Regions from separate parts of the Homo sapiens genome. Here all the other regions are linked to region 3. Evidence: fine-mapped expression QTL. A gene starts in region 3. Each other region holds a variant in brackets. All regions are shown on one strand. Distances are between the middles of the regions.

Region 1 (4,242 bases), 170 kb after region 3:
TAAAGATTGCTATTGAATTTTAGTATTGGAAAACTTTGGCCAATGTAAAGATGATTTTAATTTGAACATGTACAACATGCAAAAGAATATTTTTTCTCCTTAAATCATACTTTAGAAGTCAACCCTAATTTAACAAAATAGGTGATCCTGAATGGACTTTAATTCATTTATTCAGCAAGGCTTATTGAATTACTCTTCTAACTCATCATGAGTTACACTCATAATAAAAGTCTGCACTCCTAATTTTGGCCTCCCATAGCTCAGTCAATCTCTGTCTATGTTTCCAGTTTCATTTCCTATTGCCATCTCCCTTAACCTTCCACTCCAGCACAGTTTTTCTTGCTCCTCCCCATGTTGATGCTCATGCATGCCTCAGGGCTTTTCCATCTTCCTGAAAACCTCTTACCCAGATCGTTACATGGCTCGCTTCACTTCATTTACTTCTCTGCTCCAGCATCACTACCATAAAGAAGCATCCCACCAGCACTCTTCACAATACAGCAGGGACCATCAAAAAGCAAGAGACACAATAAAAATGATAGTTGAAAAGATTAATCTCATGACAGTGTACAAGATAACTTGTACGTAAACAGGCTGGATTAGACATGGATGAGTGGGGGCCACAATTAGGAACTTTCACATTCATTCAGGTGTGAATTGATAATGATCCAGTTATGACCACCTTGGGCATGAGTAAAGCTACACAAACATTCTCCCAAAACCAGGTCTTCCCTCGGATTTGTGATGCCGGTAAATTGTTGCCACCTTCCTCCATCCTCCTCTAACAGAGCCATTTCAGAACCAAAACTTTTTAAAGAAAAGTTTGAAAAAAATAAGAAGCACCAAAGAATTAGCAGGAAATGGTTAGGTTTTAGGACTAGAAACCACAATGCAGTAGGGGCTCTGCAAGAGGAAGGAGTGAGTGCTTCAAAGTGACATAGCAGCTGTGTGCTGTTGTGCCTGAGACTCCTTCCAATCCTAGATGTTTCCTAGTGGTGCTGGCAAAGCTTCTGTTGGCTGTACCACATTCTTTCCCAATCCAACTCCCTCTATGTAAAGTCTCATAATTCTAAGGATCCTGGGTTCAAATGTAAGTTTCTTCCGTAGTAGTTACCATTTGGGTGTTTCTGCTTCTTCTAAACTCCCTTCTAATTGTTTTTCCTCTTGTTTTTAAGCTAGTGATTTTTTCCCCTGTATTTTACATATGCTTATGGAAAGAACAGATATGTTTTCATGGCACTTAGCATGTTATAAATGCATTGTTTTCCATGGAGTAAGATCATTCTACCACTGAGAGCATTAAATCCATGTTCCTAAGGTAACCCATGTTTTCCTAGAAACAGGGGAAGAGTCATGACCAACTTTCACATTGTCTGCTTTGTTCTTGGGGTATCATCCATTGTGATAACCATTCCCAAGAAGTTTCCTCCCCAAAACAGAATTACTTCTCTGCCTACCCTTGATTCAAGTGACCTTTCATTACAGATAATCTGGTTTTATAGGGAAATCTAGTAGGTTCTGCACTCAGTTGTAAAGAAAGACAGATGCAAATGGGTTTCAGTAATTGGTACAACATTGTCACAAAGCTCTTTAGATTAGCAAGTACTTATAAACTAGGTGGAATATTTTTTATTCCATGTTGTTAATAAGAATGCCCTAATCCTCTTTACACACTTGAAAATATCCAGGGAATGCAGAGAGAGACAGACAGAGAGATAGACTCGTATGTAATCATGGACTTTTGAGATAGGTAGGTATAGATGTTCCTGTAAACTAAGCGTTTGTAGCCTCCCAAAATTTATATGTTGAAATCCCTACCATACTGTGATATGGAGCCTTTGGTATGAGGTCAGAGGCTTCATGCATGGGATTAGTGCTCTCATAAAATAGGCCCTGGAGAGCTTCCTCACCCCTTCTGCCATTTGAAGACACAGTGAGAAGATGAATATCTGTGAACCAGGAAGCAAACCCTCACCAGACATTAAATCTGCCAGTGCTTTGATCTAGTTCTTCTCAGCCTCCAGACTGTGAGGAATAAATTTCTGGTTTTTATAAGCCATCCTGTCTATACAGTTTGTCACAGCAGCCTGAACAGACAGAGACAAGTGTAATCCCATCTTTTCCTTAGCTGTATTATTAGGTTAGTGCAAATGTAATTGCTGTTTTCGCCATTTTAATGGCAAAAATCACAGCTACTTTTGCACCAACATAATATTTGCTCACTTTTCTCTGTTGTAATTTTCTCATATGAGACTGTAGGAAAGAATGATTTAATATATTCTATAAAGTGCCTAGTAATATAATAGGTCCAGCATATGAAAGCATTCATAATAGGTTCTCAGTAAAGAGTGGCAATGCTCGAGCATTTCTAAAGAAACGGAATTGATTATATTCCATTCCTTTTTCAGACAGTTATAAATGTTAGAAATTTCTTTCTGTTACTGCTCCAGAATCTGTGCTTTTCAATTATTGGTTCTAATTCAGTATTTTTAGGCCTCAGAGAAAAAG[C/T]CTTAATGCCGTCTTCACGTGGTAGGCTACCAGGTCTTTGAAGATGGCCATTTTGTATCCCACATCTTCTCCACATCTGCTCATAGAAATACAGTTTCTTCATTTGCTCCCTTATGGTTTAGGTTCGAAGCAACTCAGAATGGAACACAACGCTACTGGTGTGTTAATTAGCAGGTGAGAATGGAACTATCACCTTTTTTGTTGTGTTCTTAACACAACCTTAGTTGGCATGAATTTGAGGAGCAGTTATATTTCACCTTTGACTTGTCAAACTTACACTTGACTAAAACCTACAGATGTTTTTCTTTTTAATTTTTTTTAATTTTTAATTTTTGTGGGTACATAGTAGGTGTATATATTTATGGGGTATGTGACATGTTTTGATACAGGTGTGCAACATGAAATAATTACATCATGAAGAATGCAGTATCCATCCCTTCAAGGATTTATCCATTGAGTTGCAAACAATCCAATTATTACACTCTTTAAGTTATTTTAAAATGTTACAGATGTTTTTCAAACATGTCTCTGTTCTACCCTATCTCTCTCATCATATATTTGTATGGGATTTTACATTTTGACATATTAAATTTCATCTTGTTGGAGTTTGCTCGTTTTCTTCTTACCTATGAAGCTGTTTTGGGACCCTAACTATGACAGTAAGTCACTTGGCTATGCACTTAATCAGCATGTGTTTAATATCCACACTCACATTTTTATAAATATTTAACAGGAAGGGAAATTTATACCTCCAAACCCACTCTAATCCCTGAACTCCAAATGCATGTAACCAACTGCCTGTTAAATATCTTCACTTAGATGATTCCTGTCAGTTCACACTTAACCAAACTGATTTCCACCCTCAACCTTCTCCTGTAGTCTTCTCATCCTAGTCACAGTGAAGCATATCCGTCCTTCACATTGCACAGCCAAAAACCTTCCTTGCAGTCATCCTTGACCCATTTTGTTTCCTCCCACATCCCATATCTAATCCCTCAGCAAACTCTACTTCACAATGCATCCTGAGTCATACCTTTCTTACTTCTTACCTTCTTGCACTACCACTTTGGACCAAATCATCAGAAATAGATTCCTAACATTTTCTGTATTTACCCTTACATTCTTTAGTCTTTTTAAAATATTGACGCTAGAATGAACCTGTTAAGACTTAAATTATGTCACTCCTACTAAAAATACAAAAATTGGCCAGGTGTGGTGAGGCATGCCTGTAGTCAGTCCCTGCTACTCGGGAGGCTGAGTTGGGAGAATCACGTGAACCCAGGCAGCGGAGGTTGCAGTAAGCAGAGATTGTGCCACTGCACTCCAGCCTGGGCGACAGAGTGAGACTCCCTCTCAGTTAAAAAAAAAAAAAAAAAAAAAAATCACCTTAATGCCTTTTATCTCTGGTTACTTCAACACCATAATTACCATAAATAATTCATCTCTGTTGGAATATTTGTGTCCCATTAAAATTCGTATGTTGAAATCTCTTCACTAATGTAATGATATGAAAATCAGCCTTTATGGGGGTGATTAGGTCATGAAGGCAGAGCCCTCATGAATGGAATTACTGCTCTTATAAAAAGACAAAGGACTTTGCAGGGACGTGGATGAAGCTGGAAACCATCATTCTCAGCAAACTAACCCAGGAACAGAAAACCGAACACTGCATGTTCTCACTCATAAGTGGGAGTTGAACAATGAGAACACACGGACACAGGGAGGGGAACATCA
Region 2 (4,242 bases), 350 kb before region 3:
TTTTTTACATAATGTTCAGCATACAATAAAAATTAGGAGACATGTGAAGAGAAAGGAAAATGTGACCAATGGTCAAGAGAAAAAAGAAAACAGTAGAAGCAGAAACAAATATAAGCCAATTGTTTAAGTTCACAGGCAAGAACTTTAAAATAATCACAATTTTATTTTTAAAAAATAGAGGAAAAGATGGAAAGTAGATGAGAAGAATTTCAACAGAGAATTGGAATAGAGACAAAAACTTCTAGAACAGAACCCTCTGAATGGGTTTAACAGCAAATTGGACACAGCAGGAGACAAGATTAGTGAATTCAAAGACAGATCAATAGGCTGGGCACTGTGACTCACACCTGTAATCCCAGCACTTTGGGAGGCTGAGGCGAGTGAATCAGCTGAGGTCAGGAGTTTGAGACCAACCTGACCAACATGGTGAAACCCTGTCTCTACTAAAATACAAAATTAGCCGGGCGTGGTGGTGGGTGCCTGTAATCCCAGCTACTCTGGAGGCTCAGGCAGAAGAATCGCTTGAACCCGGGAGGCGCAGGTTGCAGTGAGCCGAGATCACACCATTGCACTCCAGCCTGGGCAATGAGTGAGACTCTGGCCTCAATACAGAAAGAAAGAGAAGGGAGGGAGGGAGGTAGGAAGGAAGGAAGGGAGGAAGGAACCAACCCATATTGAAGCACACACACGAGTTGAGCCTGAGACCTTGGTCAAGAACCAAACCTAACAATACTCTGGCTAAAGAGTGAGGGGACTGTGGGCATGGGGGAATGCCTCCCCACAGATTCCCATCCACGACCCTTGGCCTGATGACCACAGCATCTCAGTAATGCTTCTGTAGTCCAGTATCATTTCTTCTTTCTGAAATACATACATACATACATACATATATATATATATATATTTATTTATTTATTTGTTTATTTTTTGAGGCAGAGTCTTGCTCTGTCACCCAGGCTGGGGTGCAGTGGCATGATCTCAGCTAACTGCAACCTCTGCCTCCCGGGTTCAAGTGATTTTCCTGCCTCAGCCTCCCAAGTAGCTGGGATTACAGGCATGCACCACCATGCCTGGCTAATTTTTGTATTTTTAGTGGAGATGGGGTTTCACCATGTTGGCCAAGCTGGTCTGGAACTCCTGACCTCAAGTGATCTGCCTGCCTCAGCCTCCCAAAGTGCTGGGATTACAGGCATGAGCCACTGCACCCGGCCTGAAATACATGTTTAAAAGAAAAATGTTGATCGTTTACTCAAAGGGGTAAATTAAGAATGGTAGTGAGCTCCTAATATCGCTAGCCACAATTCTCAAGGGAAGCAAATGGGGAGGCCAAACATCTGGTTGCTAACCTCATCAGCACCTGATGGGTAGGGAGGCTGCGCGAAGGCTGATGTCCACTGAGGAATTCTGAAATGCTCCTTAAGGGGACTAGGCCCACCCATGTTGAGAATCACTAATGTATACTTGTGTTTAATTTTTTCTCTATTTCTTCTTCTTTTTCTTTTTTTAAGAGATGTTATGCTATGCTACCCAGTCTGCTCTCAAACTCCTGGGGTCAAGCGATCCTCCTGCCTTGGCCTCCTGAGTACGTTTAATTTTGCCACGGAAACATGCAGTCTCTCAGGAATATTCTAAATCTAGAATGGGTGGATTAGCACAGTCATAGTATTAGTAATTAATAAAACTTTCCCCCACTTTGAAATCCTGAAAGTAGTTAAAATCATGGAGTTCTAGGCAGTCCGGTATTAGCAGCCCTTGACCTTTGCATTGGCAGCTGTCACCAGGTGTTTAATGTGGCTTATTAGGGAAGTCCAGAGCCAGCCAATACTTTACTGAGCTTGTAAACTCATAATCCGTTTAGATTTTTTTGTAAAATAAAAACCATATATCTATATGGTAACGAATTGGTTAATTGTAAGCCAGGAAATAAAATGTATAAACAAAAGTGAAGTGGTAACAAATTAGTTAAATGGCAGGGGGATCAAATCCAGATCTGTCAGGACAGAAGGGAATACTCACCAACTATGCTAATGAGGAAGGAGATGAATCTAAAGTCAACAACATCTCCTCTAACTGCCCACTTTTACACTGGGCCCAGATAGGTAGGAAGCATTGATTGCTCATGCCCCATTTGCTCCCAGGCCACCACCTAGTCTGACCCTTTGCTGGCAGGACAGAGCGAGAGGCCAGCATCAGAGTGGCCATTTGTGAAAATGCCAGAAACGTTGTCTACTCTCCACCCCACCCCATCTCCCACAAAACTCACCTGTGCCATGCAAGACTGTGGCAGATGGTTGGAATTCCAGGCGCTACTGCTCTTCATCCTTCTAGGGAGGCAGATGTCAGGGCAGAGGCCTGGGAAGTGTGAGGCTGCTGGATCCAAGAGTGGGGGCAGGTGGAGCAGAGGTGAGGTTTGGCCTTTTGGAAGCACTGGGTCACGAAAATCCAACCACGTGCTTTGACCAGATTCGTTTCCTGCTCAGATTCTGGATTGAGGAAGGCGGGGAGTGAGACCATGGCAAAGAATTGACTAGGAAGAAGCTGTCACCCTTGATGGAGTGGGCAAAGAGAAAAAGCAATCATTTGGGCATAGGGCCCAGCTGGACTCCTGGGTGGAAGGTGTGGCCTGGGTGTTCTTGGGTTCCTTGTCTGCTTGAGCCCCAGAAC[A/G]ATAGAAAATCTTGATGGCCACAGCAACAGGAGCTTAATAGTGGGAAGGAAGAAAAATGAAGGACAAAACCAAGACTTAAACTCCCACTGGGAAGTTTGAGAAAAAAGCCTTAACCACTATACCAAAAATGTACCCCAGGAAACTGATCTTACCTTCTGGTACCAGCATCAGCTACATAAATTGTCGGGTCTAGTGCAAAGTGAAAATGCAACCTCTTCTGAAAAAAGCAGCAAGAAAAGTGCTGTGAAGAGTAGTGAACTATAAAGCTTTTTCCTTTCTTCCATAGTCCTTCCTATGATGGGGCTTTTTATTTGCTCTTATTTGTCATTCTATGTAAAGAAAAATTAAGAATTTAAATAATTAGCATGATTTTTTTTTTTTTCCGAGACAGAGTTTTGCTCTTGTTGCCCAGGCTGGAGTGCAATGACACAATCTCGACTCACTGCAACCTCCACTTCCCGGGTTCAAATGATTCTCCTGCCTCAGCCTCCGGAGTAGCTGGGATTACAGGTGCCCGCCACCATGCCTGGTTAATTTTTTATATTTTTAGTAGAAACGGGGTTTCACCATGTTGGCCAGGCTGGTCTTGAACTCCTGACCTCAGGTGATCTGCCCACCTCGGTCTCCCAAAGTGCTGGGACTGCAGGCGTGAGCCGCCGCGCCTGGCCGGCTAATTATTTGAAATTTTAAGAACATTTTCCAGACACTCCTAAAAGTTTATAACCTACGCTTGCAGTGGTTAAAGCGTCAGTCCTAAGGTATTTTTCCAAAAGGTGCTGCCCAGGTAACTAAGCTGTCTCTCCCTGGTGGTCTAGTGGCTAGGATTCTAGTGCTTTAACTGCCAGCGCCCAGGTTCAATTCCCGGTTAGGAAAGTTTGCTTCTTTGCTTTCTTGATCACACGCATTCTATTATCGCCGTGGCTGCGGCTGTCACTGCCCTCCGGAGCAGTTAAGGTTTGCTTGCAGGCACGCCTCTCTGCAAGGCACTACTGACATCCTGTACATCAGTATCCAGGGAATGGGGACTGCCTGTATGGAGTAAAAAGGTAGGCAGATTCAGACTCACCTCAGCCCCACTCTATTGAGAATTACTGATTTTTATTTTTACTTCTTGGGGGCTGAGTCTCGCTCTGTCGCCAGGCTGGAGTGCAGTCGTGCGCTTTCAGCTCATTGCAACCTCCGTCTCCCGAGTTCAAGGAGTAGCTGGGACTACAGCTCAGCCTTCCGAGTAGCTGGGGCTACAGGCCCGCACCACCACGCCCAGCTAATTTTTGTATTTTTATTTTTGTATTTTTAGTAGAGACTGGGTTTTACCATGTTGGCCAGGATGGTCTCGATCTTTGACCTCGTGATCCGCCCGCCTCCCAAAGTGCTGGGAGCCAACGCTCCCGGCTTGATTTTTAAAAATCAATATAAGTAATTTTTACATGAAACAAGTGAGTTATTTCAAATGTCTTCTAAATCTAGAAAGGTCTGATGAATTGGCATAGGCACAGTTTTAAGAATAAATGTAATTCTCCCTCCCCGACCTCCTGCCGAGTTCTCATTTAAACCCTAAGGGCGGTTTGTTTACATTT
Region 3 (4,242 bases):
TCTTGTGTTGGAGAGAATGTGGAACAAAGAGAACTCATCAATGCTAGTGAGGGTGTAAACTGATAAAATAGTACATACATTATTTAAGACATTCTTGAGGCTGGGTGCGGTGGCTCACGCCTGTAATCTCAACAGTTTGGGAGGCAGAGGCGGGCGGACTGCTTGAATTCAGAAGTTTTGAGACCAGCCTGGGCAACATGGTGAAATCCTGTCTCTACAAAAAATACAAAAATTAGTCGGGTGTGGTGGTGGGTTCCCGTAGTCTCAGCTATTGTGGGGAGAGGCATGAGGATCGCTTAAACCTGGGAGGTCAAGCTGCAGTGAGCTGAGATGGCTCCACTGCAATCCAGCCTAGGGGACAAAGTGAGCCCCTGTCTCAAAAAAAAAAAAAAAAAAAAAAAGAGGGAGAGAGAGAGAGAAATTGAGATTCATTCAAGGAAATACCATGGGTAGATCCTTAATATCCAATAAGAAAAATGATTTGGAGAACATTAAAGTTTACATACATTAAAAAAACCCAAATGACACTAAATGCATGTGTCTATAAACATGTTTAAGCACCGTAAAACTAAAAATAAAAGTGGACTAGAATTACACTTTTATTTTTATAAAATAAAATTTTATACCCATAAAATTCATGGTAGAAGTGGCCTACGCCAAGGGAGGAAAATGAAGCAGGGAGGAAAGAGGAATTCAATTCTGTAGTATTTAATTTCTTATGAAAAATCTGGGACAAAAATGAAAAATGTTAAATTTTTAAATTCTTGGTGATAGGTCACAAATGTTTGTTTCATAATTACTTGCACTTTTTGAATAAAAATAAAATCTTTTGGAAATTAAAAAAATTGGCGATTTGTCATGGTGATTTTCTTAAAAGACTAAGGTGTCTAGTGGGATACAGAAGACTCGATGATTTTATTTTATTTTAGGTTTTTTTTTTTTTTTTTTTTTTGAGACGCAGTCTCGCAATGTCGACCAGGCTGGTGTGCAGTGGTGCGATCTCCGCTCGCTGCAACCTCTGCCTCCCGCGTTCATGCGATTCTCCTGCCTCAGCCTCCCGAGTAGCTGGGATTACAGCTACTTGCCCGCCACCACGCCTGGCTAACTTTTTGTATTTTTAGTGGAGACAGGGTTTCACTATGTTGGCCAGGCTGGTCTCGAACTCCTGACCTCGTGATCCGCCCGCCTCGGCCTCCCAAAGTGCTGGGATTACAGGCGTGAGCCACCGCGCCCGGCCTTATTTTAGTTTTTTATGTCAATTTTTGAATTTGTAATTGGGTGAGAATTAAAGTGTTATAAATTTCACCTTAAGTGAAAATTTATTAGTTTTCTAATGACAAAAGTAGTTACATCTGACGTAAGGGGATTTAATTATCTTTTTCTGGGCTTGCGTCCCGGAACGCTGCTGCATTATGTAATCTGTAGTAATATACCCACGAGCAGTTTGGAGGGTTCTGGGAAGCACATTTGTTTTGCTTACCTACCATGGGAAAGATTCCACGTGGTCCTAGAAGCATACGTATTCGTCGGTTACAGTATTTTAAATATTCACTGGCCGCTGAAATTTAAAATGGATGAAAAAGAAATTCTCTTAAGTAGCGTTCTTGAAACTGCTTTATCAAACTCAGTTCATATTTTCAGTTGGAGTTCGTGATGTATGTGATTTTCCTTTAAATAAAACCCGAATCTTTAGTAATACAAATATTGGGAACTTCGATTACTGTAGGTCTTAGGGTAGACTCGCTTGGACTTTGACTAAATACTATGCTTTAGAAATTTATCTTTAGGAGATAAATTTGGGGGGTTTATCTTTTTATATTTGCTTTGTTTCAATTTATTTAAATAAAAGTAGTCTTTCTAGAAGTATGTTTTATAGTACCACTTACCTCGGTTACTGTCCCAGTTAAGCAGTTTTCACGAATGTGGAAAAATAGTAGTGTTTTTCTTTCATACACGCGTATATGAAAAATTTTTACATTGATAGAGAATTATTCGTAAAAATTAAAGTAAATTTACTGTTAGTCTCTAATTTTGTTCTGAGATAGCCACGCTGTGGCATTAAGAAGGATAATCAAGGAATAAGCCATAATGTTCAGAAAGGGGCTTTACTTTTTATTTTTAATATTATTGATAAACTTTGTTTAGTCGAATTGATGTCTGCGTGTCTTCCCCCGCCTTCCCCATAAAACAGCGGGACAGAAAGTCCTGAAAACTCCAAAAGGGAAATATTTACTCAGAGGTCTATTCAAATTTGCTTAGTCTCTGACGTTTTCCTGTGTCGTACAAATCCCTCGTGCGGCAAAAGTAGTTTGTCTTTACTAGGCCACCGTCTCGTCAGCGTTACGGAGTATTTTGTCCGCCTGCCGCCGCCGTCCCAGATATTAATCACGGAGTTCCAGGGAGAAGGAACTTGTGAAATGGGGGAGCCGGCTGGGGTTGCCGGCACCATGGAGTCACCTTTTAGCCCGGGACTCTTTCACAGGCTGGATGAAGATTGGGGTGAGTGGGATCTGAGAATGTACCAGGGTGGCTCGGGTTCGCGTCTAAAGGTTTCTTCCTCCCTACTTCCGCCCACTCGTGGTGACAGGTGTGGACCAACCCTGCCTGGGGAGTGAGGCCCCTCGTCACTCCTGTTCGTGCCCCTGGAAGAGTCTGGGAGTATCGTTCGGCTTCTGTCCTGGCCACAGGGAGAGTAGAATATTGTCTAACTGGAGTTAACTGTCGTTTTTCACTATTCCCACTGGGGAAGTACCGGGTGATCTTTTTGTGTGGCTAACACTGGACGTCTTTAGGAGGTTTAGAGCAAAATGGCTGGGACCGCCAAAAAGGCTACAAGCTATTTCCTGAGTGTGAAATGTGGGCGGTGAGCACAATGGAGTGGGTTTTTGTGTGTTTGGTGTATATGAGAGAATGTGGTTATATACAAGAAATTCTAATCTTACAGCTTTTACTATTGGTTTAAGCCTGATGTCCGTCTTGGCAGAAAAGCAAAACACCCAAGCACCTGACCTCGGGTCCCTGCTTAGCTACACCTAATACTTATGGTGTAATCCTGACTGCTCTCCAGATACAGCTCTTAATTTTCTTGTTAATGGATATTTTGTTTGGTTTTGGTGGTCAGGAAGGGTGGAATGGGATGAAGTGGAAATGAGAATGAAGAAACTTTGTTATCTAAGTATTTAGAGGAGACTTTTATTCTCCTCTTGATTGCAAGATATAATAGTAATATTGTTCTTAGGTTCCAATATGAATTTGGGATTGTGTAGGTTCCCAAATGGGCCCGCTAGTGAGCCTACACCACTCATCAGCCTTGGAACTGGGGGGAACCCAGTTTATCTTTCTCCCTTGGATCAGCATTCTCAATAGCAGGAGTGGAAGGAATCTCAACTTTTTATTGAACAAAGTCATTTAATTGTTTCAAGGACAGATGTTCTCTAAAACTATATTCTATTGGAGATTTATTTTAATCCTTGGGTAGATTTTTTAAGAGTTGCTGGAAAACTTAAGATTTTTTATTCCCATTTTCCCAAGCCAAATGCATTAGTGACAGTAACCATTTATTTAGCTCTTTGTGTCAGGGACCCTGTTAAACTCTTGACATGAAGTATTTTGTTTAATCCTACCAACAGTCCAATGAGGTACTGTTTATTTTAGAGATGAGGAAACTGAGGCTAACAGAATTTGTGCTCAGATTCTTAGAGCTAGTTAGTGGCAGAAGAAGGATCAGACCAGGTTTTTCTACCTCCAAAGTCTGTACCCCTAGCATCTATTCTATAATGCTTTCCTAACTCATGTCTACAGATTTTATTCTTCCTAAGATCCCTGGTTATTAATAAGACTACTTGAATATATTGGGTAGTTATGATTTATTTTGTCAGCTAGTCAGCTATTATATTTTCATGACATTTCTTTTCTTTACCTCTTTTTTTGAGATGGAGTTTCGCTTTTGTTGCCCAGGCTAGAGTGTAATGGCGCAATCTTGGCTCACCGCAACCTCCGCCACTCGGGTTTGAGCGATTCTCCTGCCTCAGCCTCCCGAGTAGCTGGGATTACAGGCATGCACCACCACGCCCGGCTAATTTTGTATTTTTAGTAGAGACGAGGTTTCTCCATGTTGGTTAGGCTGGTCTGGAGCTCTGGACCTCAGGTGATCCGCCCACCTCGGCCTCCCAAAGTGCTGGGATTACGGGTGTGAGCCACTGTGCCCGGCCAGTGACATTTCTTAAAGTATAACTGTGGGAC

Evidence for each region. PIP is the estimated chance that this variant, and not a neighbour inherited with it, causes the effect.
Region 1: its variant is the best candidate, but not a certain one, in a credible set for the expression of ATF6 in whole blood (INTERVAL, PIP 0.86).
Region 2: its variant is the best candidate, but not a certain one, in a credible set for the expression of ATF6 in whole blood (TOPMed, PIP 0.79).

The regions. Positions count from the first base shown.
Region 1 is chr1:161,933,481-161,937,722 of GRCh38, forward strand. The region is part of intron 15 of ATF6 (activating transcription factor 6); the gene reads left to right. Among named protein-coding and RNA genes, the nearest start is that of OLFML2B, 88 kb to the right of the region's middle. The variant C/T (reference allele first, on the strand shown) is at 2,509.
Region 2 is chr1:161,417,406-161,421,647 of GRCh38, forward strand. It overlaps the pseudogene COMMD6P1 and the pseudogene TRUND-NNN3-1. Among named protein-coding and RNA genes, the nearest start is that of TRE-TTC4-2, 2.6 kb to the right of the region's middle. The variant A/G (reference allele first, on the strand shown) is at 2,665.
Region 3 is chr1:161,763,944-161,768,185 of GRCh38, forward strand. ATF6 (activating transcription factor 6) reads left to right here and starts at 2,377. Exons shown (of 16, transcript NM_007348.4): 1 at 2,377-2,499. The coding sequence starts at 2,418. ATF6-DT (ATF6 divergent transcript) reads right to left here and starts at 2,204. Exons shown (of 3, transcript NR_187280.1): 1 at 1,887-2,204; 2 at 1,481-1,558; 3 at 1-214. LOC124904444 (a long non-coding RNA gene) reads left to right here and starts at 2,506. Exons shown (of 2, transcript XR_007066695.1): 1 at 2,506-2,863. RefSeq lists enhancers at 486-655, 2,195-2,274, 2,305-2,384.